7 linked regions of the Homo sapiens genome follow. The protein of the gene in region 1 purifies or fractionates together with the protein of each later gene. This does not show direct contact. Each region holds a gene or a part of one and is shown in the gene's direction. Other genes may lie near its edges.

Region 1 (2,756 bases):
CCTTCTTTCTTTTCCTTGTGCTCCGCAGGTCCAGCCCAGGCTGGCAAAACTGAAGATTGTGAAGTTTATCTTGGCCCACCTGTCTCCTGCCCTCCGTAGGCCTCTGCCCTTCACCCCTGTTGCCCCACTATTATTTAACTGCAGTACTGTCTCCTCCATTAGATTAGGGCTTCTCCAGAGTAGAGACTGTCTTCCACCCTCCCACCTGTTAGACTGGGAGTGCCCCAGGGCAAGGGGCCCATCTTTGATTAGGGTCTCCACGCAAAGGACAGTTGATGCTGTAAGCTGGGTCTGAGCCCAGGCCCCAGCTGTTAGCGGGCTTGAGAGGTGCCTGGCCATTCCTCAGGGCTCTGTCCTGTGTGTCCTTCCCCAGCATCTCCCTGGAATCATTCCATCCTTGCCCTGGCAGCTGTGGTGGTCATTATAAGCATGGTCCTCCTGGGAAGAAGCATCCAGGCAAGCAGGTGAGGAGCTGGTCCTGGGGGGATGGGGTGGTCTCTGTGGGGTAGAGGCCCTGCCTTCCCAGAGGGAAATCTAGAGAGGGGTCACTTAGGGGTCATTGCTGTCCACCCTTTGGGACAGCAAAATTCAGCCTTCAGTGTCCTTCGAGAACCCCAAGCTGTTAAAAACAAACAAACAAACAAACAAAAAACAGCAACAGTCCCTGATTACCACCCCCTGGCCCTGGACAGGAAGCAGGCATGACCTGGAGGAGTGTAGCCATTCAGAAGGCGAGCTTGCCCCTCTCACCCTATCAGCACACATGCACCTCAGCAAAGTCAACTCAGAGATGAGTGGCTGTCCATGGGTACAGCAGACCTGTTCCCCCTACGACCCAGTCAGAATCTCTAGGCAGACAGCTTACCACCGCTGGGTCCCTCCACTATGGCCAGGAAGTCTAGGGGTACCTTGAATAAAACCAATCTGGAGAGAGGACAGACACATGGGAGTTATTAAGGAAGTGGGCAGTGGGAGCCAATGAAGGTGGTTGGGGGAGGGGAGTGATGTGTACACGATGGGGTTTTAGAAACATGACTGGTGTTGTGCCTAGGCTGGTTTGGAGAAGGAAACACCTAGAGGCAGAGAGATTAGTTAGAAATTTCCTGCAGTAGTGTGAGGGATGAGGTGTGTGGTGACAAGGACCTACGCTAAGTAGGATGACAGTCCAAGGTCAGAGACAGTGTGGTTAGGTGAAAAGAACACAGGATTCAAGAGTCAGGAGGCTTAAGTGCACACACTAGCTATGTGCATCCTTGGCTTTTTTTTTTTTTTTTTTTTTTTGAGACAGTCTCTCTATTGCCCAGGATGGAGTGCAGTGGCACAATCTCGGCTCACTGCAACCTCTGCCTCCCAGGTTCAAGTGATTCTCCTGCTTCAGCCTCCCAAATAGCTGCAATTACAGGCACAACCACACCCAGCTAATTTTTGTATTTTTAGTAGAGATGGGGTTTTGCCATGTTGGCCAGACTGGTCTCAAACACCTGGCCTCAAGTGATCCACCCGCCTCAGCCTCCCAAAGTGCTGGGATTACAGGTGTGAGCCACTGCACCTGGTCTCCTTGAAGCACATTTCCTCACTTGGAAGGTGCGGGGGTGGCAATGATACTTGAGCTCACAGGTGACAGTAAGGATTCCTTGAGATGACACACACTCAAGGGTAAGCCATTTCTCTGTTGAAGGAATATCCAACCATTGCCGCTTCTCCTCTAGTAGCTCCCAAACTGCATAGAGAATTTTCCCCTTAGACTCTTTAAGCCATTTGGGCGACCCAGTCCTGCCCCAACCACTCAGCCCCCCTCATTAACACTGTTCCCTGTCCCCCCAGAAAAGAAAAGATGCAGCCACCAGAAAAAGAAACTCCAGAAGTCCTGCATTTGGATGAGGCCAAGGATCACAACAGCCTAAACAACCTAAGAGAAACTTTGCTCTCAGAAAAGCCAAACTTGGCCCAGGTGGAACTTGAGTTAAAAGAGAGAGATGTGCTGTCAGTTTTCCTTCCGGATGTACCAGAAACTGAGAGCTAGTGAGGGTTCAGAGAAGCCCCATCCTAAGCCAGACACATGATGTGGGCTCAGCTCAGTGGCCTGAAACCTCTCAGGTTTTAGAGTCTCTCCCAAGAAGCCGCTTTTTTCTTTTTCTTTCTTTCTTTTTTTTTTTCTTAGCAGATACAATGAATGAACTGCAAGCAAACTAAAATTCTGTTATTAAAAAAAATCTTTTATTAAAATGCTCCTGGAAGGGAGCAGGTGGTATTGCATAGTTTGTTCAGATGGCAGTGGTACACACACACATACACACACAAGTGGCCTGGAGCAAAAGTGCAAAATCCGTAGCTGGCCTGTGGGTCGGGAAGCCTGTAGGACTGCAAGCATGTGGTCTTGAGTAGTTCACAGCCCCCCTCTGACCTCAGCTCCTCCATTTACAGAATGAGTCCGAAGACTGGGTCAGAGATGCTGTTTGCAATCCAACAGTAGTCCTGAGACGGCTGAGAGGGGAAGGAGCAGGCTTCCAGGCCCAGAATCCCCTTCCCAATCCTTCCACCCACCAGGACCCTCTCTTTTCCCTGCTTGTCTGCTAAGAGTCTGTGCAAGACTTCCCTGGGACCTGGCGTGTGGTAAACAAAATCAGACAACTACCACACTGCCTGCCTTGGACAGCCTTTTCTTGCTAACAGTGGGATCTCAAAGGTGTGTCCTGATCCCATGTCTGAGCCATGGTGTCTTGGTATAAGCTGCGGTGACACCACCAAATAACATA
Region 2 (3,500 bases), on another chromosome or scaffold:
TAACTAAGGACAACTGAAAAAAAAACAACTCTCTTTTTTCATAGCTGGTAGGAATGTTGCCTAAAAGTGGAAAAGTATGTTCATGATCAATTAGATAAATACATTATTAAGGAAAAATTGCCTGAGGGTTATTTCAGATGACCTCTGATGCCACTGTCAGAAAGAAAATGCTGAGAGCTGTTAGTCTGAGTTGATTCTAGATTAGTATGGCACTTCTTATGTTTCTAAATAGTTCATCTACAAAATGGCAGTGTACATCACTTCCTGTTCTTTCACAACTGGCTCTTTCACTGGATTCTCTTTTAATGACTTAATTTTTGGCATTCTGATATCTGATTTGTTAATTTGGTTATAATTCTCATGTTTTATAGGTGGAAGAATTTCTGAGAATCAGCTGGATTTAAAGGCTTTTAATAGTTTAAGATTATCTTGACAGTAACAAAACATTGCTTCCAAACTAAAGGATAGTATTGCAAACAAATTTAAACTCTGAGAGGTTTTAAAGAAGTACAGCAATGTACAGAATCAGAAGTATGAGGGCACTGAATAGAAAATAATTATCGTATTTTTTATAATGTCGATTTTGGGAGAAGTGAGGATATGGCAAGTAATTGAATGGGTGTTGATATAAAATAAACTTTCTGTATAACAAGGTGTATACATGATATTTGGGCCCATGTTACGATGCCATTTTAACAGTAAGAAAGCAACTCTTTAGTTACAGGATACTAGAAAGACTGGATGCTCATAACTAACCATGAGTATGATTTATTTTAATAATTTGCCAGTTTTTTTTTTTTTTTTTTTTTTTTTTTTTTTTTGAGACGGAGTCTTGCTCTGTCGCCCAGGCTGGAGTGCAGTGGCACGATCTCGGCTCACTGCAAGTTCCACCTCCTGGGTTTACGCCAGTCTCCTGCCTCAGCCTCCTGAGTAGCTGGGACTACAGGCGCCTGCCACCAAGCCCAGCTAATTTTTTGTATTTTTAGTAGAGACGGGGTTTCACTGTGTTAGCCAGGATGGTCTCGATCTCCTGACCTTGTGATCTGCCCGCCTCAGCCTCCCAGAGTGCTGGGATTACAGGCTTGAGCCACCGTGCCCGGCAAATTTGCCAGTTCTTAATAGACATGAATATTTAGTAAATCCAGAAGATATCTAGGGGTCAGTTGTTGGCATTGAAATTAGAGTTGAGATCAATCTGTCTTTCGTGTCTTTCACCTGGAAATAAAGTCTGTGTTTTGCATTTGGCTTATTTGTATATTAAAATCACTTAATTTTTCATTTGTATCTCTGTTTTGTTTTCACTAGTCTCTGTTACTTATAACAATTAATTGCACTCATACTAATTTAATCTTTTAGAAATGAGGAGCATTTTTGGTACATATTAGTTGAGGGTTGCTGTTTGGATGAGGATCATATGTGAACGAATCCCTTCAAAAAAGTGTTATTTCTGGGCTGGGCAAAGTGGCTCAGGCCTGTAATGCCAGCGCTTTGGGAGGCTGAGGTGGGAGGATTGCTTGAGGCCAGGAGTTCAAGAGCAGCCTGGGCAACATAGCATGACCCTGTCTCTACAAAAACAAATTTTTTTTTTAATTAGCATGGGCTAGGCATGGTGGTTTATGCCTATAATCCCAGCATGCTGGGGGCTGAGGCTGGAGGATCACTTGAGCCTAGGAGTTTGAGGCCAGCCTGGGCAACATAGTGAGACCCTGTCTCCAAAAGATAAAAAATGAAAATATTAGTGGGGCGTGATGGTGCGTGCTTGTTCTAACTACCTGGCAGGCTGAGGTGGGAGGATTGCTTGAGCCCAGAAGATGGAGGCTGCAGTGAGTTGTGATCATGCCACCGCACTCTAGCCTGGGTGACAGAGTGAGACTGTCTAAAAACAAAAGCCTGTGTGGTGGCTCAAGCCTGTAATTCCAGCACTTTGGGAGGCCAAGGTGGGCGGATCACCTGAGGTCAAGAGTTCGAAACCAGCCTGGCCAACAAAGAGAGACCCTGTCTCTACAAAAATAAAACAAATTAGCTAGGCATGGTGGTGGGTGCCTGTAACCCCAGCTACTGGGGAGGCTGAGGCAGGAGAATCACTTGAACCCAGGAGGTGGAGGTTACAGTGAGTTGAGATGGCGCCACTGCCTGACAGCCTGGGCGGCAGAACAAGACTCCATCTCAAAACAAAACGAAACAAATAAAAAAGTTTTATTTCTCTAGTAAAGTTTCGCATAAAATTGAGATGTTCATTAAGCAGAGTACCAACATATGCTCACCTGCCTTTAGGTATGTGTACTTTTTTTTTTTTTTTTTTTTTTGAATTTGAGACAGGGTTTTTGCTGTGTCGCCCAGGTTGGAATGCAATAGCGTGATCACAGCGTATTGCAGCCTCAGCCTCCCGGGTTCAAGTGCTCTTCCCACATCAACCTCCCAAGTAGCTGGCACTACAGGTACATGCCACCACGTCTGGCTAATTTTTTTTTTTTTTTTTTTTTTTTGTAGAGATGGGGTTTTGCCATGTTGCCCAGGCTGGTCTTGAACTCCTCAGCTCCAGCTATCTACCTGCCTTGGCCTCCCAAAGTGCTGAGATTACAGACATGAGCCACTGCACCCGGCCCGATTTCCGTACTTACTATTAATGGTTGGATTTTAAAAATTATTCTTCAGGTTTTCCTATTATAAAATATGAGAGGATACAACCTGTATTAGTTCATTCCATTCTTAAAGTATTTTAGTTTTTAGTAATAAAAATTGATGTTTAATTTCATTAAAGATGTCTCATACCTTCTAAAAATCTACATGAATTAAAAAGTTGTGTGGAGGGACTAGCAGCAATTATTTTCAGCTGGGACGTTTCTGTCATCATATGGTAACAGTTATTTCTGTATCAGTCTATTTGTGCCAGAAGCAGACTTTTTGTTCTAAAATACAGTCTAAGGCTATACCTTTTTGATGACAAAATTAAGTATCCTATAAAAGTTGGAAGAGTTTTTAAAATGTTAAGTACCTGGCATGTAAATAAAGTAAGTAAAAGTATAAATTATTAAGTGCCTTGCATAATAGATATACTGCAGCCTCCTAAAAATGCCAGTGACCGTTATGCTGTAGGTTGTTATTTAAATATAATGGCACTTAATTACCGTCTAATTTATCTTTAAAGCTGAGAAGGGGCTAATTTTTCCTTTTGATAAAATTATTTGATCAAATAGTTTTATGCAGGTTTAGAAGTAGATGAATTACTGTAACATTTAGAAAGACATTCAAAGTTTAGTTTCTGAGAAATATTATCAAATAATAGGATGGAACAAAACTTTCTGGTTTGCAGCTACCAATAATAAAATTGGCACTTACTATATATTAATGTTGGCTGGGCGTGGTGGCTCACGCCTGTAATCCTAGCACTTTGGGAGACCGTAGATCACTTTAGGTCAGGAGTTCAAGACCAGCCTGGCCAATGTGGAGGAAACCCGTCTCTACTAAAAATACAAAAAATTAGCTGGGCGTGGTGGCGT
Region 3 (3,500 bases), on another chromosome or scaffold:
AGTTACCTAGCTCCTCTCACCATTTCTGCTCCTTACTAGATTATTAATTCTTGTTGAACAGAAGCTTTGTCTTATGTATCTTTCTGTCTTTATAAGCACAGTACCTGGCTCAAAGTTAAGCTCATTAAAAGTATACAGAATTGAGAGGCTGTTAAGATTTGTTCTCTTCCATCATGGTCTAAGGAGGGTTGGGTAGAAACTATGAGTAGTGACATTGGAAAGAGGAAAAGACAGATCAGCCTCTTGGAACCAAGAGAGAAGGTAACAAGGGCCTTTAAGGGACTAAAATACTCCCAAGTATTAGTGCTGGCAGGAAATCCCTTCCTCAGAGTACAGAATCCCTACCCTGGGGCCCCAGGAACTCTCTCCTATCTCAGTCTCACTCCCAGCCCTCGCTTCACTGGAATCCCAGGTCTAGCTCGGGCCACGAAGCAAGATCCCAGTGAATATGAAGAGGAACAAGGAAATCTCAGCTTGAATTGTAATAATCCCCATGTGTCAAGGGCAGGACCAGGTAGAGGTAATTGGATCATGGGGATAGTTTCCCCCATTCTGTTCTTGTGATAATGAGTGAGTCTCAGGAGATCTGATAGTTTTATAAGCGTCTGGCATTTTCTCCTGCTTGCACTCATTCTCTCTCCTGCCACCCTGTGAAGAGGTGCCTTCTGCCATGATTATACATTTCCTGAGGCCTCCCGAGCCATGCAGAACTGTGAGTCAATTAAACCCCTTTTCTTTATAAATTACCCAGTCTCAGGAATTTCTTCATAGCAGTGTGAGAACAGACTAATACAGCAAGTAAGAGGGCATATTTTCTTTCTTTTTTTTTTGAGACAGAGTCTCGCCCTGTAGCACAGGGTGAAGTGCAGTGGTGCGATCTTGGCTCACTGCAACCTCTGCCTCCCGGGTTGAAGTGATTCTCCTGCCTCAGCCTCCCGAGTAGCTGGGACCACAGGTGCCCACCACCACGCCTGGCTAATTTTTGTATTTTTAAGTAGACACGGGGTTTTGCCATGTTGGCCAGGCTGGTCTCTCTTGAACTTCTGACTTCAAGTGATCCGCCTGCCTCAGCCTCCCACAGTGCTGGGATTACAGGCATGAACCACCGCACCTGGCCATTTACTTATTTTTAACAAATATAAAAAAAACTTAGAAGTACTTTTGTTCACTTGTGACTGTAAGGCCCTAGACTCCTCCACTGAGAATTTTGTTACCTTAGTGGTTTTTCAAAAATGTAATAGCCAGGCAGGGGAGGGGCTGTTATACATCATGAGTTAAGTACTTTAAACTTTTGCCAACTGCCCTGAGATCCTTGCTATCTTGTATAGCTTCTGCAGGAAAATGTCTGCTCAGTTTTGCCAAACCAACTTTTCTTTTTTTTTTTAAATCGAGACGGAGTCTTGCTCTGTTGCCCAGGCTGGAATGCAGTGGTGTGATCTTGGCCCACTGCAACCTCTGCCACCCAAATTCAAGTGATTCTCCTGCCTCAGCCTCTTGAGTAGTGGGAATTACAAGCATCCGCCGCCATGCCCGGCTAATTTTTGTATTTTTAGTAGAGACGGGGGTTTCGCCATGTTGGCCAGGCTGGTCTCGAACTCCTGACCTCTGGTGACGCACCTGCCTCGGCCTCCCAAAGTGCTGGGATTATAAGCATGAGCCACCACGCCCAGCCGCCAAACCAACTTATAATTAAACTTTTGGGATGCAATTCATGGGTGATTTGGAAAATGCTAACATTCCTAAGTTTAGCTTCCTATTACTTAGACTACATTCCTGTTGACATCCAGAGAATGGAAATGGAGTTTTGCCGTATGACATCTTTTAACAAATACATTCCAATTCTATTATAATATGGCATGTTACTACACAGATTAAGAAATACTTATGAAACCTTGGCTCTAAAGTGCTCCTAAATCCATACATACTTGTATGTGTTTTCCTCTATTTGAAACAGCTAGCTTGCTTCCTTTCTTCCTTCCTTTTTTTTTTCTTTTTTCAGGGTCTCTGTCACGAAGGCTGGAGTGCAGTGGCACAATCACAGGTCACTACAGCCTCAACTTCCTGGGCTCGACCAGTCCTCCCACCTCAACCTCCTGAGTGGCTAGGCGCACACCACCACACCCAGCTAATTTTTTGTTTTTTTCATAAAGACAGGTTATCATCATGCTGCCCAGGCTGTGAAACAGTTTTCTTTCTTTCTTATTTATTTATTTTATGTTTTATTTCAATAGTTTTTGGGGTACAGGTAGTTTTTCGTTACATGGATGAATACTTTAGAAGTGAATTCTGAGATTTTAGTGCACCCATCACCCAAGCAGTGTACATTGTACCCAGTATGTTTTCTTTTATCCTTCACCCCTGCATCCCTAGAGTTCATTATATTGCTCTGTATGTTTTTGCATCCTCATAGCTTAGCTCCCACTTATAAGTGAGAACATACAGTATTTGGTTTTCTTTTCCTGAGTTACTTCACTTAGAATAATGGCCTCCAGTTCCATCCAAGTTGCTACAAAAGACATTATTTTGTTCCTTTTTATGTCTGAGTAGTATTCCATGGTGTCTGTATTTTATATATATATATATATATATATATCTTTTTTTTTTTTTTTGAGAGTCTCTCTGTCACCCAGGCTGGAGTGCAGTGGTGCAGTCTCGGCTCACTGCAACCTCCGCCTCCCGGGTTCAAGCAATTCTCTTGCCTTAGCCTCCTGAATAGCTGGGACTACAGGCACCCGCCACCATGCCCGGCTAATTTTTGTATTTTTTTGTAGAGGCGGGATTTCACCATGTTGGCCAGGCTGATCTCAAACTCCTGACCCAAATGATCCACCCACCTCGGCCTCCCAAAGTGCTGGGATTACAGGCATAAGCTACCATGTATAACACATTTTATTTATCTACTCATTGGTTGATGTGAAACAGCTTTCTGTACTACAAATAGTTCTGTCTCCCATTGAAATTATGAAATTTCAATGTATACTACAGGGCATATAGACCCTCAGTGATGAATGCTTTGCAGTCATTAAAAAAAAATATATTGACCTGCATTTGTTGGTATGGAATGATGTCCACAAAATACATTATTATGGAAAAGCAAGTTATAAAACAATATAAGCTACTCACATTTTGTAAATAAAATATCAATATTTCTGTATATGTGTATACATGTGTCTAAGTGTATATAACATGTATACACACAGAGTATGACATACAAGCAGATATTTATAGTTTTTGTTTTTTTTTTTTTTTGAGACGAAGTCTCGCTCTGTCACCCAGGCTGGAGTGCAGTGGCGGGATCTCGGCTCACTGCAAGCTCCGCCTCCCAGGTTCATGCCATTCTCCTGCCTCAGCCTCCCAAGTAGCTGGGACTACAGGCACCTGCCACCACGCCCAGCTAATTTTTTGTATTTTTAGTAGAGATGGGGTTTCACCGTGTTAGCCAGGCTGGTCTCGATCTCCTGACCTCGTGATCTGCCTGCCTTGGCCTCCCAAAGTGCTGG
Region 4 (3,500 bases), on another chromosome or scaffold:
CTCCGCCTCCCAGATTCAAGCAATTCTCCTGCCTCAGCCTCCCGAGTAGCTGGGATTACAGACGCGTGCCACCATGCCCAGCTAATTTTTTGTCTTTTTAGTAGAGATGGGGTTTCACCATGTTGGTCAGGCGGGTCTTGAACTCCTGACCTCAAATGATCCTCCCGCCTCGGCCTCCCAAAGTGCTGGGATTATAGGCATGAGCCTCCTCACCTGGCCGCCCATCTACTTTTTAAAAAAATTTATTGTAGAGATAGGGCCTTGCTATGTTGCCCAGGCTGGTCTTGAACTCCTGGCCTCAAGCGATCCTCCCGCCGTAGCTTCCTTTAGTGCCAGGATTACAGGCATAAGCCCCTGCGCCTGGCCTGCCACAGATTTTTATCATTGGTAGGATCATCATTCCCATTTTACAGGTGAGCAAACTGAGGCTTGGAGTGGCAAAGGCACACAACCAAGGTCCCACAGCAGGATAAAGAGCAGAACTAGGCTTAGAAGCCAGGTTTCTGTGATGCCACAGCTGAGACTCTGCCCTCAGGGGTCTTACGAGTGTCCCCACCTTAACATTCATCCAGGTTTCGAGTTCTTTGAAGCCAGTGCCAAGGAGAACATCAATGTGAAGCAGGTCTTCGAGCGCCTGGTGGATGTCATCTGCGAGAAGATGAACGAGTCCCTGGAACCCAGCTCCAGCTCAGGCAGCAACGGGAAAGGCCCGGCCGTGGGGGATGCTCCAGCCCCCCAGCCCAGCAGCTGCAGCTGCTAGAGATGGCCCCCAACCCCCCACCCACCCCTCTCCTGCCTCGGCAGGGACTGTGATCGAGGCGTGAGCCACAGTGGTTATCTCCAAGCTCAGGGCAATCCCTTCCCTCCTGTCAACTGCTCCCCGACTCCTGCATGGCTCATTCCTTCACAATGTCGCCGTGGCTGCCAGGTTCCTCAGGCAGCCCCGGTGGGAGGCTGCGGACCATGGGGACTCAGCTCTGCATGGCAGGCAGAGGCCCAGGGACACTGACGTGCATGAGCTTGCTGCTTTCCAGGGTGTGTTGAGGGTGGCCATGGGTGACACGTCCCACTCTTTCTGATGGAGGGGCATCCGTGGTGCCTTCTAGCTTAGAACCATTTTCCAGGTCTCTTCTGGGTTGGGCAGGACTGATATTCCCAAGCTGGTGGAAGATGGTTCATCTTCCTCGCACAGTGTGGGTTCTTGGAGTTCATCCAGGGAAGGCGGCGCCTCTTTCTCAGGTCCTGCAGGCTGGTCTCTGAGCCTGCCCCCACGAACTTTCTGGATTCCAAGGTGGGATGGTGATCCCTTTGACCCCTGCAGACCCTCTACTTGCGAAAAGCAGCATTGAAGCAGCCTTTTCCCATTGTAGAAGGGACAGGGAGTCAGATCCCCTCAACCCCCCGGCTTCAGGGACCCCAGAAGTGCCTTCCAAGCTTCCCCCAAGATCCACATCACCCACGACCCTGCCACTGTTTTTGCTGTGTTCACCACATCTCTGATCCTGAAGTGAATTCTGGAACTATGGACCACATTAGACTGGGCAGAGATTCGCCCAACCCCTAGCACTCCGGCTCTGGGCTTTCGGCCAGAAGTTAATTAACCTCAGAGCCAGGAGCCTGGGGCTGGGGCCTCCCTCCCAGGCCCTGTTTAGCTGTTTAGCTGGTTGTGTTTTAAGCAAGTTCTTGCCCAATCATGCATCCTGCTAGAAAAGGAAATGAAGCAACGTTCCCAGCCACCGCAGGCAGTTGTCGGCGACTTTCTGATGTAAGCACCTGGGCTCCGACTTGAGGGGGGCCCTTCAAGACCCAATGTCCATTTCCCAATCCTTGTCATCGGCAGGGCCCAGGGATGTGACAATTTTTGCTAATGGAGGAGTCACTTCTTTTTTTTTTTTTTTCTTTTTGAGATGGTCTGGCTCTGTCACCCAGGCTGGAGTGCAGTGGTGCAATCATAGCTCACCACAGCCTCAAACTAGGGGTCACTTCTAAGGGATGCTGGGGGTTGGGCGGAAGGGGTGAGGAGGTAGGATTGAGTAACTTGCTGTCACTGCTTGTACTTTGTAGACAGCCTGAGAGTGGCAGGACCTTATGTGAATGGGGGGGATGGACTGTGATCAGTGCCGGGGAGTCTCTGAAGCTGGGGTCCCCACCTCCAGGGGCTTCTGCTCAGAGGTTACGTGTGCAGTTTGAAGATGTACATCTTGACCTCCGGTTTAGAGGCACTTTCTGCCCATCAGATTCCAAACTCTAGGGGCGCAGCACCTTTTCTTTGCTCCCAAACACCAACCAACACCCCTTCACAGGACCAGCACTGTTAGGATGGCTAAGTGGATGTTTTATGTTCCCACGTCCCTGACTCTGTTTCAGAGGTTGTGTCTGCTCTCCCAGCCCCTGAAGCCAAAATGACTTCCTGCAGCTTTCATGAGCTCAGCCTCTTCCCTGGGGTATGTGTGAGGGGGAAAGCCTGGTTCAAGTTTAGATTTATTTCTAGGGAGCCCTGGTTTCTTCATACCAGAGGCTACCCTTAGAACTTTGGAGTGGGGTATCTTTTTTTCATTTGTTTTTTTGATACAGAGTCTCGCTCTATTGCCCAGGCTGGAGTGCGGTGGCACAATCTCAGCTTACTGCAACCTCCACCTCCAGGGTTCAAGCGATTCTCCTGCCTCAGCCTCCCGAGTAGCTGGCATTACAGGCACCTGCCACCACACCCGGCTAAATTTTGTATTTTTAGTAGAGAAGGGGTTTCACCATGTTGGTGAGGCTTGTCTCAAACTGACTTCAAGTGATCCACTTGCTTCGGCCTCCCAAAGTGCTGGGATTACAGGCGTGAGCCATCACGCCCAGCCGAGGGTATCTTTTATACCAACAAATTAGATGACTGAGGTGTAATGGACAAATCCTATGCACAAAGTGAGGGTATCTGAATATGTGGGCGGGAGTCAAAAATTTTTAGCTACTTTAACACTAAAGTCAAACTAAAGTAGCTTCAAAAAGACTTCTCAAGATGCAGTATGGCCTGCTGAGGTTTTTTTGTTTTTTTTTTTTTTAAGACAGAGAGTCGCTCGTCGCCCAGGCCGCAGTGCAGTAGCATGATCTCAGCTCACTGCAACCTCCACCTCCCGGGTTCAAGCGATTCTCCTGTCTCAGCCTCCTAAGTAGCTGGGACTACAGGCACCTGCCACCACGCCCATCTAAGTTTTGCATTTTTAGTAGCGACGGTTTCACCTTGTTGGCCAGGCTGGTTTTGTTGGCCAATTGTCTCTAAACTGCTGTCAAAAAAAGGAATGGATCAGATTGTCTTGAATAGGGCAGAGCTAACCTGTAATCACCTGTGTGATGAGAAACAGCTTTGACTGCATTTTACTCCTGACCTGGCCTAAGCTTTCTGTTTACATAAGATTTTTCAAGAATTCAACTTCAAGTAGCAGCCGAGAGAGCTGCCTCAGGATTCTCTCAAAAACTGGGAATAATATGGGAACATTTGTTTCTTCTAAAAATAA
Region 5 (4,141 bases), on another chromosome or scaffold:
GGCCTCCAAAGCGCTAGGGTTACAGGCTTGAGCCATCTTGCCCGGCTGTCTTTCACTGCTTTTATACTGCAAACAGTTTTCACAACAGAGATGCTCAGTTGCTCCACACCCAGTCCTTCAGGGGAGTTATGCTTGCATATGAGCTCAAGGAACATCAAAATCGTTTTTTGAAACAAGAGCATCCTGGAAGATGAAGCAAGCTGCACCTCTGCCTTCATTAGTGAAAATGCCCTGTGCCAATATCTTTATGTCAAATGAATAAAAAGTACTCTTGGCCGGGCGCTGTGGCTCACGCCTGTAATCCCAGCACTTTGGGAGGGAGGCCGAGACGGGCGTATCACGAGGTCAGGAGATCGAGACTATCCTGGCTAACACGGGGAACCCCGTCTCTACTGAAAATACAAAAAATTAGCCGGGCGCAGTGGCGGGCGCCTGTAGTCCCAGCTACTCGGGAGGCTGAGGCAGGAGAATGGCGTGAACCCGGGAGGCGGAGCTTGCCGTGAGCCGAGATCGCGCCACTGCAGTCCAGCCTCGGCGACTGAGCGAGACTCCGTCTCAAAAAAAAAAAAAAAAAAAAAGTACTCTTATGTGACCAGGAGTGCAATCCCCGGTTCACTTCCTGCAGTGGCTCAGGGCTGGATTTACACTGCCCTCGTTGGGTGGCTGTCCATGGACTTCCAGGCCTGAAAGAAGGAAATTCACATCCTCACTGAGTCGTGTTAAGAGTCTCAGACTGGCAGGTTGTGGTGGTTAAGACCGTAGAAGCTAGAGTCAGGCCCCCTGGGTTCCAACCCTGCTCTGCCACGTACCAGACAGGCAAACCTGAGCAACCATTTTCCCGTGCTAGGGTTTCCTCGCCTGTCGAGTGAGAATAATAATAATAACAATACCTACCTCCTAGGGTTGCTGTGAGAAATAAATGACAATCCACAGAAAGCGCCTGCAACGGCGCCTGGCTGGCAAACAGCGGACTTGTTAATTACAGCCTTTCAACTAAGGGCGCCTGAAACTCGCAAACATTTTGCTCGGGTGTGGATTCGCTCCCGTTAGTTACAAACTTGGGATCCCGGGACCCGGAAAGCAAGGGGGAAAAATAAATCGCGATGGGGCCAAGGGACAGCTGCTGCGGCAACTTTTACCCAGCGGAGCCCACCTACAGCCTCAGCCTCCGGGTCTCAGGTCTCCGCCGTTTCTTCTCAAGGAGTCGGTCGGGGGAGCGGCACTGCACAGCTTTTCTCCAATCAGACACCTCAAGGCTGGCGCCTGATCCAATCTCCTCCCCTGGAGGGTGGGAACGCGAAGTTCCTACCTGCACCTGTGGCAGCGGTGACCGCCTCCTGGGTTATTTTCTTTTCTCCCCCAGCTGCCCCAGGGTTCTGGTTTCCCGAATCACTTGGCAAATAACCAGCAGGTGGGCAGATGTCTTTTTTGCGTTCCTACGGACGCGTAGGCAAGTTCGATGCGCCGGAGTGAACAGCCAGGGTCCCATCTCTCAGCCGGCTCCCGGGCGGTGCTAGCAGGGAAGAGGGACGCGCCGGCGAATGAAACACTACTAGCCCGGAAAGCCGCCCTGGACCTTCCACCCGGGCAGCGAGTCTGGCGGCCCCTCGCCGCCGCCCCCTCCGACCAGAACAGACTGCGCTGCGAGCCCCGGGCTTCCGCCGCAGCGCGCAGCAATTGGAGGTGCCAGAGGAGACCAGCAGCAGCACTTGATTTAGCTGGGCTGCGGGAATTCCGACCTGTACACTTTCCAGAAGCCTGATCTCTCCAAGTCCGCGCCCAGGGACTCGAGCCCCGGCTTCCAGGTTGACCCGAGCGCGCCCCCTTCGTGCTCTCGGCCGCGTTCACCGCGCGAGGCCTCCGGGTCCTGTTAAGCCCGAGCAGGTGAGCGACTGGGGGTGGTTCGGCGTCCGCCGAGACAGAGCCTGGCCCCGGGGGTCACCCTGGGGTGCTGCCTGGTACCTCCCAGGTACCCGCCTCCCGGAGCCCTAAGAGAGGCTGAAAACCACGGACGCTCCAGGACTCCGTTTTCTGTACTTTTGAGTAATTTGCCATCTTTTCCTTGCGCAATTCGTACAAAGCCCTTCCGTGCTCACAAAGTTGATGATTGTGAAGAAGAAAATGTAGGTTAGAGGAGAGGAAGCAGCATCAGGACACCTTACCACCACTGTTAGTAAATGACTTGGGGGTACGGGTTGCTTTTCCGATCTGCAAAGTAGGAGGGAATGGGATGTTTGCAGACGCAGTTGCTAATTGTGCCTGAGGGCGTGGGTGCCTTTTGTACCGAAAGAACTTTTGGCCGTTTTTTCTTGTATTGTTTTCAAGTCGCTGCCCGAGTGTGTCCTCAGGGCATCCTGGGGAGGAGCCGGTGTTGCGGTTTCGGGGCGCAGCCGAGGCCGCCCCGCCGCCTCCCGTAGGCGATCAGACTTCCTCTCCCTGGCGGTTCCGGGAGGAGAACCTCCTACAACAAACACCGCCGAAGTTTCCCTCTCCAGCGCGATCGCCAATCCCAGGAGCGCCCGGCGCGTGGGCTGGGAAGGAGCCGAGCGGAAACCTGGAAGTGAGCCGCGGCGCAGGCGAATCCTGCCGTTGCTGGTGGCAGCGCCCAAGAGACCCCGCACAGAAAGTGGGCTGGGAGTCTCGCTTGCTGTACCCGCACCTAAGTGCTCAGAAGCGGCCTTTCGCTCTGCAGAGGGGGGGTCTTAGAAGCTTGGGGAAGAAGCACATTGTTTCGGAGTTCCTTGTTGCGTTCTTTCTCCTTGGGAGGAGGGAATTGCACAAGGAAAAGAAGAGAAGCCTTTACTTTGTAACTGAAATTCTCCAGAGTTGAGTTGCGTCGTACAGACTCGGTGCATATTTTAATACAAAACTAAGGGAAGAGGCCATTTGATACTTGGCTTCATCTCAACCGTCAGCCGGGGGTGACTTCAAACAGACGCAAGATTGGGCTCTGGGGAGTAAAAGGAAGAATTAGGATGGCGGTTTTCAAGGGAAGTTAAGTCTAGACATGCTTCTTTGAAAGTCACAAGGCAGAAGTGGTCAAAAGTAGAATTTAAAAGAACCAAAACAAATATCATAAGCTTGTCCTTCTCTCCTACTGGGATATAAATTCTCCTAAGTATCTCATCGAAAAGGCTCCTGGGACGAAAGTCGATGGGGGCAAATCTTGGAGGGAAATTTCGTGACTGTTTGACCATGGACTAATTAATACCGTTCACCTGTAGAGAGGATGCACTTGGTTCCCAGCGCCCTCCTCCCAGGTGCTTATCCAAAGGGAGGCCGCCCTGGGTCGGATGGGTCACCTTTTGGCGTCCATCTACAGTCAAGCAGTGTGGACAGGGCGGTCATTTTCCCTCTAGAGACGGGTTGATTCAGAGGGGTGGGAACGTCCCTTGGGTCCCCCGGGCACGCTGACCACTGCACTGCACTTCCCCTGAAGGAAAGGCAAAGGTTGAAGCCAAAGAGTTCAAGGCTCAGCCTAGAGACCAGGTGATGGTGCCCTGGAAGACACTTCCGCCAGCACCCTATGGGGCGCAGTGGCGTCTAATGCTAATGTGGGCTACGTAGCTACGGGATTGGGTCGCTCCGACCCTGGCCGATCCGGTGCCAGACAGCATAAGGGAGGAAAGGGGACTGGGGGGGGCACGTGACTTCAACCAACCCAGTAACCAAGTTTTGTTTTCTTCCCCAGCACAGGCCGCTGCCTCAGCATCCACCCCGCAGCCCACGTGTGGCAAGCCGGGGAAGGGGTGGAGTGAACGGCCGGAGACCACGTGGAGAAAGGGGCCGCTTTGGCCCTTCCATCTGGGTGCCGGGAGCCCCTAGGCCCTCCGGCCATGGCCGACAGCGGCGATGCTGGCAGCTCCGGCCCCTGGTGGAAATCGCTCACCAACAGCAGAAAGAAAAGCAAGGAAGCCGCAGTGGGGGTGCCGCCTCCCGCCCAGCCCGCTCCCGGGGAGCCCACGCCACCTGCGCCGCCCAGCCCGGACTGGACCAGCAGCTCCCGGGAGAACCAGCACCCCAATCTCCTCGGGGGCGCCGGCGAGCCCCCCAAACCAGACAAGTTATACGGGGACAAATCCGGCAGCAGCCGCCGCAATTTGAAGATCTCGCGCTCCGGCCGCTTTAAGGAGAAGAGGAA
Region 6 (3,500 bases), on another chromosome or scaffold:
ACCTGAAAGATTTTTTTTAAATTTGGAAGATACCAAAAAGAGCAGGTGTTTTTTGTGTCTCAAAATATTCCTAACTCTGCATTATTATTTGCTTACATAAAAACTAAGATGGTTGAGGCCTAGAAAGGAGCCACTTACTTTTTCTCTCTTTTCTATAATATAGAGGAGGTGGGAGTTTCCCTAATACAGAGGAGTTTGGAGCAGGAGAGTCAGATTTTTACTCCGAGGGTAAGGGGAAGTAGAGGGAAATAAAATGAATTGTCCAGTATTTTTCATTACTCACTTTTTAAAAAATGTATTCTGCAGATACTTTGGTTAGTGACCACATCGCAGCATGTTGAGTCAAGTTTACCGCTGTGGGTTCCAGCCCTTCAACCAACATCTTCTGCCCTGGGTCAAGTGTACAACCGTCTTCAGATCTCGTATGTACCATAGAAAACTTATGAGTATGTGGGACGTTTGATAGTCAAAGTATGTTTCAACAAGGTTTTCAAAGAGAAAAAAGATGTTTGTTTGTTTGTTTGGAGACAGGGTCTCATTTTGTCACACAGGCTGGAGTGCAGTGGCACAAACATAGCTCCATGCAGTCCAGACCTCTTGGACTCAAGCAATCCTCCTGCCTCAGCCCACCAAGTACTTGGGACTACAGGCACACACCACCGCGCTGACTCTAACTTTTTTATTTTTTGTCGAGATGCGATTTTGCCATGTTGCCCAGGCTGGTCTTGAACTCTTGAGATCAAGCAATCTGCCTGCCTTGGCCTCCCAAAGTGCTGGGATTACAGGCGTGAGCCATCGTGCCCAGCCAAGAAAAAAGGTTTAAAAGAGAGAGAGAGAAAAAAAAGATGTAATTTGGCAGAATTGGACAAAATTCTGCCAAATAGCAAGGAGGCAAAGAGGTAGTCTCCTGGTGAAATGTTCTCAGTGTTTGTGTCAATAAAGTTGACCCCCAAATAAATTTTTACATGCTTTTTTTTTTTCTTGAGTCTCACTCTGTCTCCCAGGTTGGAGTGCAGTGGTGTAATCTCAGCTCACTGCAACCTCTGCTTCCCAGGTTCAAGCGATTCTCCTGCCTCAGCCTCCCAGTTAGCTGGGATTACAGGTGTGCATCACCATACCCAGCTAATTTTGTATTTTTAGTAGAAATAGGGTTTCGCCATGTTGGCCAGGCTGGTCTCGAACTCCTGACCTCAGGTGATCTGCCCGCCTCGGCCTCCCTCCCAAAGTGTTGGGATTACAGGCGTTAGCCACTGTGCCCGGCCCCATGCTATTTTTGTTCATTACTCTTTTTTTGTAATTAAGTTTTAGATTTTGAGCTAATTATAAATTCACTTGCAATTTTAAGAAATAGTACAAAAAGGTCCCTTATACCCTTTACCCAATTTCACCCAGTATCTGAACCAAGGTATTGACGTTGATACGATCAAGATACAGAACATTTCAATCACCACAGGATTTTTTATTTCTCTTTAACAGCCACTGTCCTCTTCCCTATTACTAACCCCTGGCCAACATTAATCTGGTCTACATTTTTATAATTTTGTCCTTATAAAAATGTTATATAAATGGAATTATCCAGTATGTAACCTTTTGGAATTCTGTTTTCTTCAGCATAATTCTCTGGAGATTCATTCAAGTTGCTGTGTGTATCAGTTAGTTCCTTTTTATTACTGAGAAGTATGTAATGCTATGAGTGTATCACAGTTAGTGTAACCATTCACCCATTAAAGGACATCTGGGTTGTTCTCATTTTTTGGCTGTTATGAATAAGGCTGGTATGAACATTGATGTACAGGATTTTGTGTGAACATAGTTTTCATTTCTGTGGGATAAATGCCTAAGAGTGTAGTTGCTGGGTCAGATTGTAGCTACATGTTTAGTTTTTTACATAGTTTGAATGTATGTCCCTACCAAATCTCATATTGAATTGTAATCCCCAGTGTTGGAGGTGGGGCCTGTGGGAGGTGTTTGAGTCATGGGGGTGAATCCCTCATGCCTTGGTGCTGTCCTTGAGATAGTGAGTGACTTCTCACAAGATCTGGTTAAGTGTGTGGCACCACCCCCTCACTCTCTCTTCTTGTTCCCTCTCTCGCCATTGGAGATGCCTGCTTCCCCTTTGCCTTCTGCCATGATTATAAGCTTCCTGAGGCCTCACCAGAAGCTGAGCAGATGCCAGCACCATGCTTCCTGTACAGCCCACAGAACTATGAGCCAGTTAAACCTCTTTTCTTTATAAATTACCTAGCCTCAGGTATTTCTTTACAGCAATGCAAGAATGGCCTAACACAGTTTTATAAGAAACTGTCAAACTGTCTTTGCAGAGTGACAGTACCATTTTACATTCCTACTAGCACTGTATGAGTGATGCACTTTCTCTGCATCTTTACCGTCATTTGATGTGGTCACTCTTTTTTATTTTAGCCATTTTGATAGGTATGTAGTGATAATCACATTGTGGCTTTAATGTGCCTTTCCCTAATAGCTAATGATATTGAACATCTTTTCATGTGTTTATATCCTCTTCAGTGAAATGTTAGTTCATGTCTTTAGCTCATTCTTTTTGTTTTTTTTTGTTTTTTGAGATGGAGTCTTGCCCTGTCACCCAGGCTGGAGTGTAGTGGCGCAATCTCAGCTCACTGCAACCTCTGCCTCCCGGGTTCAAGCGATTCTCCTGCCTCAGTTCCTGAGTAGCTGGGATTACAGGTGCCCACCACCATGCCCAGCCAGTTTTTGTATTTTTAGTAGAAACAGGGTTTTACCATGTTGGCCAGGCTGGTGTCAAACTCCTGACCTCAAGTGATCCCCCCACCTCAGCCTCCCAAAGTCCTGGGATTATAGGCATGAGCCTCCACACCTGGCCTTCAGCTCAGTTTGAATTGGAAAGTTGTTTTTTTTTTAAACTATTGAATTTTGAGAATTCTCTATATCTTCCTGTCTTAGTCCATTTTTATTGCTATAAAGGAATATCTGAGGCTGGGTAATGTATAAAGAAAAGAGGTTTATTTGTCATGGTTCTGCAGGCTGCACAAAAAGCATGGCACCAAAAACTGCATTGGGTGAATGCCTCAGGCTGCTTCTGCTCTTGGAAGAGGATGAAGGGGAGCTGTTGTGTGCAAAATCAGATGGCCAGAGAGGAAGCAAGAGAGAGAAAAGAAAGGGCCAGGCTCTTTTTAACAACCATGTCTCATGGGAACTAAGAGTGAGGACTCATGCATTCCCTCTGAGACTGGCACCAGGCTGTTCATCAGGGATCTGCCCCCGTAATTCAAACACTTCCTACCAGGCCCCACCTCCAACACTGGGGATCAGATTTCAACCTGAGACTTGGAAGGGCCAAACCATATCCAAACCATAGCACTTCCAGGTATTAGTCCTTTGTTGGATAGGTGGTTTGCAAATGTTTTCTCCCAGTCTCATAGCTTGTCATTTTATTCTCTTAAGAGGGTCTTTCATATAGGAAAAGTTTTTCTTTTGATGACGTCAAATTTATCAGCTTTTGT
Region 7 (4,144 bases), on another chromosome or scaffold:
GCAAATTTGGGATATATTGATTTAAATGTTGACAGCAGGTTAAATCATTCAGGGAAAAATTGTGGAGTAAGAGGAAAGGTCTGAGACCTTGAAAACTCTGTTATTTGGTGGTCACCCAGAGTAGACAAGCACGCCAAGACTGGGGACAGACAGGAAAGTGGAGCACCCCCGCCACAGGAAGACGTGTTTTAAGGAGAAAGAAGGAATTTTGCTCAGATCAGTTAACACGAGAAAGGAGAGTGTCCTTTGACTTTAGTGATGTGGATGCTACTTGCGACAATTAAAAAGGCAATTTCACCGAGTGTGAAAACGAACACGTGGAGTTGAGAGACCACAAAACTGGGGGCAGGCGCCTCTTTCACCAACTTCAGCGATGGAAAGTAGAAGAGGGTGGCAGCAAGGGTACGTGGAGTAGAGAATCTTGGAATGATGAAATGCCGAGGATACGGATTCCAGTCCAGAGGGAGCAACGGATCGGATTCTGCGATACTGGAAAAACAGAAGGTGGGGGGGGGGGCTCGGTGATGGAGGGAGCAGGTGTGCAGTTTTGCCGGTGGAAAGTGGAAGTTTCTCTTTTCTCCTGAAGCAGGCGGCAAAGACCTCTGAGAGTGGGAGTGTGGTGGGTGTGCCGGGCCCCTGGATGGGAGTGGAGGTTTGGAACCAAGTGGCCCGAGCCTGCGGTGAGTGGGCCCGCCCTGGGTGGCTCTGGCCGCAGCAGGGTCGATGGGGCGGCATGGTCTCGGCGGGAAGAACACGGCTTCAGTCAGTTCTGTTCTAAGAAGCAGAAGGTGGAGATACGCATGTTTTAAACAACTCCTCCCGGACAGGAAGAAGTGGAGTTCTGGCTGTTCTGCGAGGACGCCGCAGTCCCAGCGTGGAGACCACCGCGCAGGCGAAGCGCGAGACAGGCCAGAAATAGGGTCCCGCGCGCGGACCCCGGAGGAAAAGCGAGGGCTCACTCGGTTTCCCGCAGCCAGCCTCGCCCGACCCAGCTGGGGCCGCCCCTTCCCGCCCCGGCCCCGCCTCCGCCTCAGCTCCGCGCCCACAACCCGGCTTCCTCCTCTCCCGCCGGGTCCGTCTGTCCCTGCGCCTCCTTCGCCGCCGACTAGCGCCCCCTGGCCTGACGTCACCGGCGCGTCCGCCAATGAGCTGAGGAGGGACTTGGCTGTGGCCTGAAAGTGACGGGAGCAGCAGCCAATGGTCGGGCGGAGGGGGCGGGCCGAGACTGGTGCTGGGGGGCGCCCGCGCGCGTGGGGAGCTGCGGGAGGCGCGGCGCGGGGGGGGTCGGGTGCGCGGCGGGCGGCCCCTCCCCCTGCCAGGTCCGGGCGGGTGCCTGGAGCCGCCAGAGTTTCCGCACCCGGGAGGGAGATGCGGCCGGGGCTCAGGCTCCTTGCAGGTAACGCGCGGGGCGGCCCCTGCAGGGCCGAGCGCGCCGCGGGGCGAGCGGAGTTGGACGCGGAGCGGGCGCGGGTTCCCCGCTGCCGCCGTGTCCCGAGCCCCGCACGGCGGCCCGGGCCAGAGCGGCGCTGCTGGAGGAGTTGGTTCCGGGACCTGAGCTGCGGCCCGGGCCGGGGTCACGGGGGACGCGGGCCCCTGTGTGAGCCGCACATGGGACAAAGGGCGCGGCGTGGAGGCTGCGCGCCCCGCCCGCCGCGCTCGGGCCCCTGAGCTTCTCCGCCCGGGCAGAGGTCGCCGCCCCCAGCCCCTGCCTGCACAGCCGCGCCGGCGCTCCCTCGGCCCGGGCGCACCCGGCGCCTGCGGCGCGTCCCCGGAGCGGCCATCTGGCCGCGGGGCCCCGCGCCTGGCCGCCAGCTGGCCGCGGCGCAGGCGATGGCTGGACACAGCCGGGCCGCTTGGCCGCCTGCCCTGGGTTCCGCGGCGGCTCCCCCGCCGCGCCGCGAGCGCCTGCTACTCCACGCTCGGCTGCGGAGCGGAGCGGCGCGAGCGCGGGGCCACCGGCCCGGGCGCCCGGGGCCACCGAGCCGCCGCTTCCCGGCGTGGGCTCGGAGTTTGGGGAAGCCGAGCAGGTGGCGCAGCCACTGCCCACCTCCTGCGAACTCTGCGGGGCTTCTGGTCTTGTTGATGTTGTGGCTATGGGCTGCGTGTGTGTTTTTCTTTTTTTTAAACCACACACAAAAGAAGGGAGGAGTTAGAGGAACGATCTAGCCACTATGAGTCATCCCACACTTCGCTCTTTCCCCGGGAGAGCAAATAAATGCATGGGGAGAATGTCTTGAGAAACAGTTATAGTAGGGACTGACTAGGTCCCCTCCCTGTCCCTTTTCTCTGCAGTCCTGTCTGCGCCGGGCGCGCCCCAGATGGAGTGGGGTAAAATCACGGCCAGTGCACCTAGATAGGGGAAATGGCTACAAGCTAGCAAACTGGAAACTTTCTGGGACAGTGGAACTGTGAATATCAAACCACACACATTCTTGCTATAGGCAGCCATGGCCCTCGTGCGCTACTGAATTATAAAATGGGAAGGCCGTCACAGCAGGACGATACCTTAGCCTTCAGTAGCATGTATTCAGCACTGCACGGAGGAGGGCGGTGGTGGTGGCTCGCGCCCCTGCCTTGAGGGGCCCAGGGTCTGATCAGTCAGGAAACTGCCAGGCCCAGGGATGCAGGGTCACAAACGATTGTGTTCTCTAATCTGATTCCCAGAGGCGCTGTCACCTCTCAGCGTGCATAGGATGGCTGGCTATGTGATTGAATGTTACAGATGAGGTAGAAAGGCTGGGCAGAGGTCAGCAGGCCCCTGGATGCATGGAGGGGAATATTCTTCTGTAGGTGGCTGCTGCTAATTTTTCCAAGGGGAAACATTTAGGTTTGGTCTCGCCATTCTGTTTACCGCAGTCCAGGCTGCCGTGTCAGCTGTCATTGGGCCCTCATGGTTCACAGCTGGATGACATTTGTTTTTCTGGGGTCCCTGTGTGGGGTCTTTTTGGCCTTCTCACTGATGATTAATTTGTTTTAACCTCCTGAAAACAGAGGCTCGATATGAGAAGTTTGAGAAATTGTAGGATAAAGGGACGTCTGCTTTGTTCCAGATTCAGCCCCTGTTGAGGGGCCAGTTGATTCTGTCGCAGGAGTCAGGTAGCGAGCAGAACACTGACTTCATTCCTCCTGGGTTGTGCCCTCTGCTTGGCCTGTAGCAGAGGCCACAGTGGGTCTCTCTTTTTGTTGCTTCATAAGGTGAACTAACGATCCAGCTATGGCAGAGGAGCCAGGGAGCCCAGGCAGGACATCATGTGGAGAAGAGGGACCAGAAAGTTCAACCTAGGGCCCATCTGGAAGAAAACAGAGCATCCTTTCCTATTTCATGTCCTGACTGTAAAAAATGGTGGAGGCCGGGCACGGTGGTTCACACCTGTAATCCCCATGCTTTGGAAGGCTGAGGCAGGAGGATCGCTTGAAGCCAGGAGTTTGATTCCAGCCTGGGCAACATAGTGAGACCCTGTCTCTACAAAAAAATATTTAAAATAGCCAGGCATGGTGGCATATGCCTATAGTCCCAGCTACTTGGGAGGCTGAGGTGGAAGGGTCCCTTGAGCCCAGTAAGGTGAAGCTGTGGTGAGCTATGATCATACCACTATACTCCAGCCTGGGTGGCAGAGTGAAACCCTGTTCAAAAAAAGGGGGGAAGGGATGTAGAGAGGGTGGTCCCCCGTCTCTGCCACCTTGCTCAGACAGGGCTTCTTTTAACTGAGTGCCAGGCCTGGCTCAGGTCATTGAGGAACAGAAGTCGTTTAGTGTTGGAGGAAGGAGAGTTGGGAACAAGGTCACTGTGCATGGTTGTACAGTTTGTGCCAGACACCTGACCAAGGAAGCCATGTGCCCCGGGTCTGCCCAAAAGAAGGGCCCGCCTTTCTCAGTCGCACCAGGTCACCCGATGGGCTACTGCTGGCCCTAGTGCTCAGCCCATCTGCAGGAATAAACACTGGCAACATGGGTGCGCCCGAGACAGGCAGTCAGGGACTGGGAAGCAGCGGCTAATTTCTCCAAAATCTAACAATAATGAGAACTAGTTGTTTGCATACATTTTCTCCTTTAATCCTTACCACCACCTTCTGAAGAAAGTGGTGGTGGTACTGTGTTGTGCCAGTGAGGAAATTGATTCTTAGAAAGACTAAGCAGTTCAAGG

Evidence for each region.
Region 2: the proteins of SLC51B (region 1) and TAOK1 purify together in Homo sapiens (affinity purification with mass spectrometry; one large-scale study listed by BioGRID and IntAct). This does not show direct contact.
Region 3: the proteins of SLC51B (region 1) and METAP1D purify together in Homo sapiens (affinity purification with mass spectrometry; one large-scale study listed by BioGRID and IntAct). This does not show direct contact.
Region 4: the proteins of SLC51B (region 1) and RAB3D purify together in Homo sapiens (affinity purification with mass spectrometry; one large-scale study listed by BioGRID and IntAct). This does not show direct contact.
Region 5: the proteins of SLC51B (region 1) and PRR15 purify together in Homo sapiens (affinity purification with mass spectrometry; one large-scale study listed by BioGRID and IntAct). This does not show direct contact.
Region 6: the proteins of SLC51B (region 1) and ALDH18A1 purify together in Homo sapiens (affinity purification with mass spectrometry; one large-scale study listed by BioGRID and IntAct). This does not show direct contact.
Region 7: the proteins of SLC51B (region 1) and TMTC4 purify together in Homo sapiens (affinity purification with mass spectrometry; one large-scale study listed by BioGRID and IntAct). This does not show direct contact.

What each region holds. Positions count from the first base shown.
Region 1 is NC_000015.10:65,051,142-65,053,897, forward strand, and holds the end of SLC51B (organic solute transporter subunit beta), read left to right. Parts: exon of another isoform or gene 1-373; coding exon 374-464; exon of another isoform or gene 465-848; coding exon of another isoform or gene 849-924; intron 925-1,824; coding exon 1,825-2,023; 3' UTR 2,024-2,256; downstream 2,257-2,756.
Region 2 is NC_000017.11:29,393,363-29,396,862, forward strand, and holds part of TAOK1 (serine/threonine-protein kinase TAO1), read left to right. Parts: intron 1-3,500. UniProt on the Homo sapiens protein: Serine/threonine-protein kinase involved in various processes such as p38/MAPK14 stress-activated MAPK cascade, DNA damage response and regulation of cytoskeleton stability. Phosphorylates MAP2K3, MAP2K6 and MARK2.
Region 3 is NC_000002.12:172,002,953-172,006,452, forward strand, and holds part of METAP1D (methionine aminopeptidase 1D, mitochondrial isoform 1 precursor), read left to right. Parts: intron 1-3,500. UniProt on the Homo sapiens protein: Removes the N-terminal methionine from nascent proteins. The N-terminal methionine is often cleaved when the second residue in the primary sequence is small and uncharged (Met-Ala-, Cys, Gly, Pro, Ser, Thr, or Val).
Region 4 is NC_000019.10:11,322,658-11,326,157, reverse strand, and holds part of RAB3D (ras-related protein Rab-3D), read left to right. Parts: intron 1-572; coding exon 573-760; 3' UTR 761-3,500. UniProt on the Homo sapiens protein: The small GTPases Rab are key regulators of intracellular membrane trafficking, from the formation of transport vesicles to their fusion with membranes.
Region 5 is NC_000007.14:29,562,494-29,566,634, forward strand, and holds the start of PRR15 (proline-rich protein 15), read left to right. Parts: upstream 1-1,341; 5' UTR 1,342-1,884; exon of another isoform or gene 1,885-2,169; intron 2,170-3,039; exon of another isoform or gene 3,040-3,260; intron 3,261-3,691; 5' UTR 3,692-3,836; coding exon 3,837-4,141.
Region 6 is NC_000010.11:95,650,212-95,653,711, reverse strand, and holds part of ALDH18A1 (delta-1-pyrroline-5-carboxylate synthase), read left to right. Parts: intron 1-306; 5' UTR 307-334; coding exon 335-422; intron 423-3,500. UniProt on the Homo sapiens protein: Bifunctional enzyme that converts glutamate to glutamate 5-semialdehyde, an intermediate in the biosynthesis of proline, ornithine and arginine.
Region 7 is NC_000013.11:100,671,996-100,676,139, reverse strand, and holds the start of TMTC4 (protein O-mannosyl-transferase TMTC4), read left to right. Parts: upstream 1-1,344; 5' UTR 1,345-1,396; intron 1,397-4,144. UniProt on the Homo sapiens protein: Transfers mannosyl residues to the hydroxyl group of serine or threonine residues.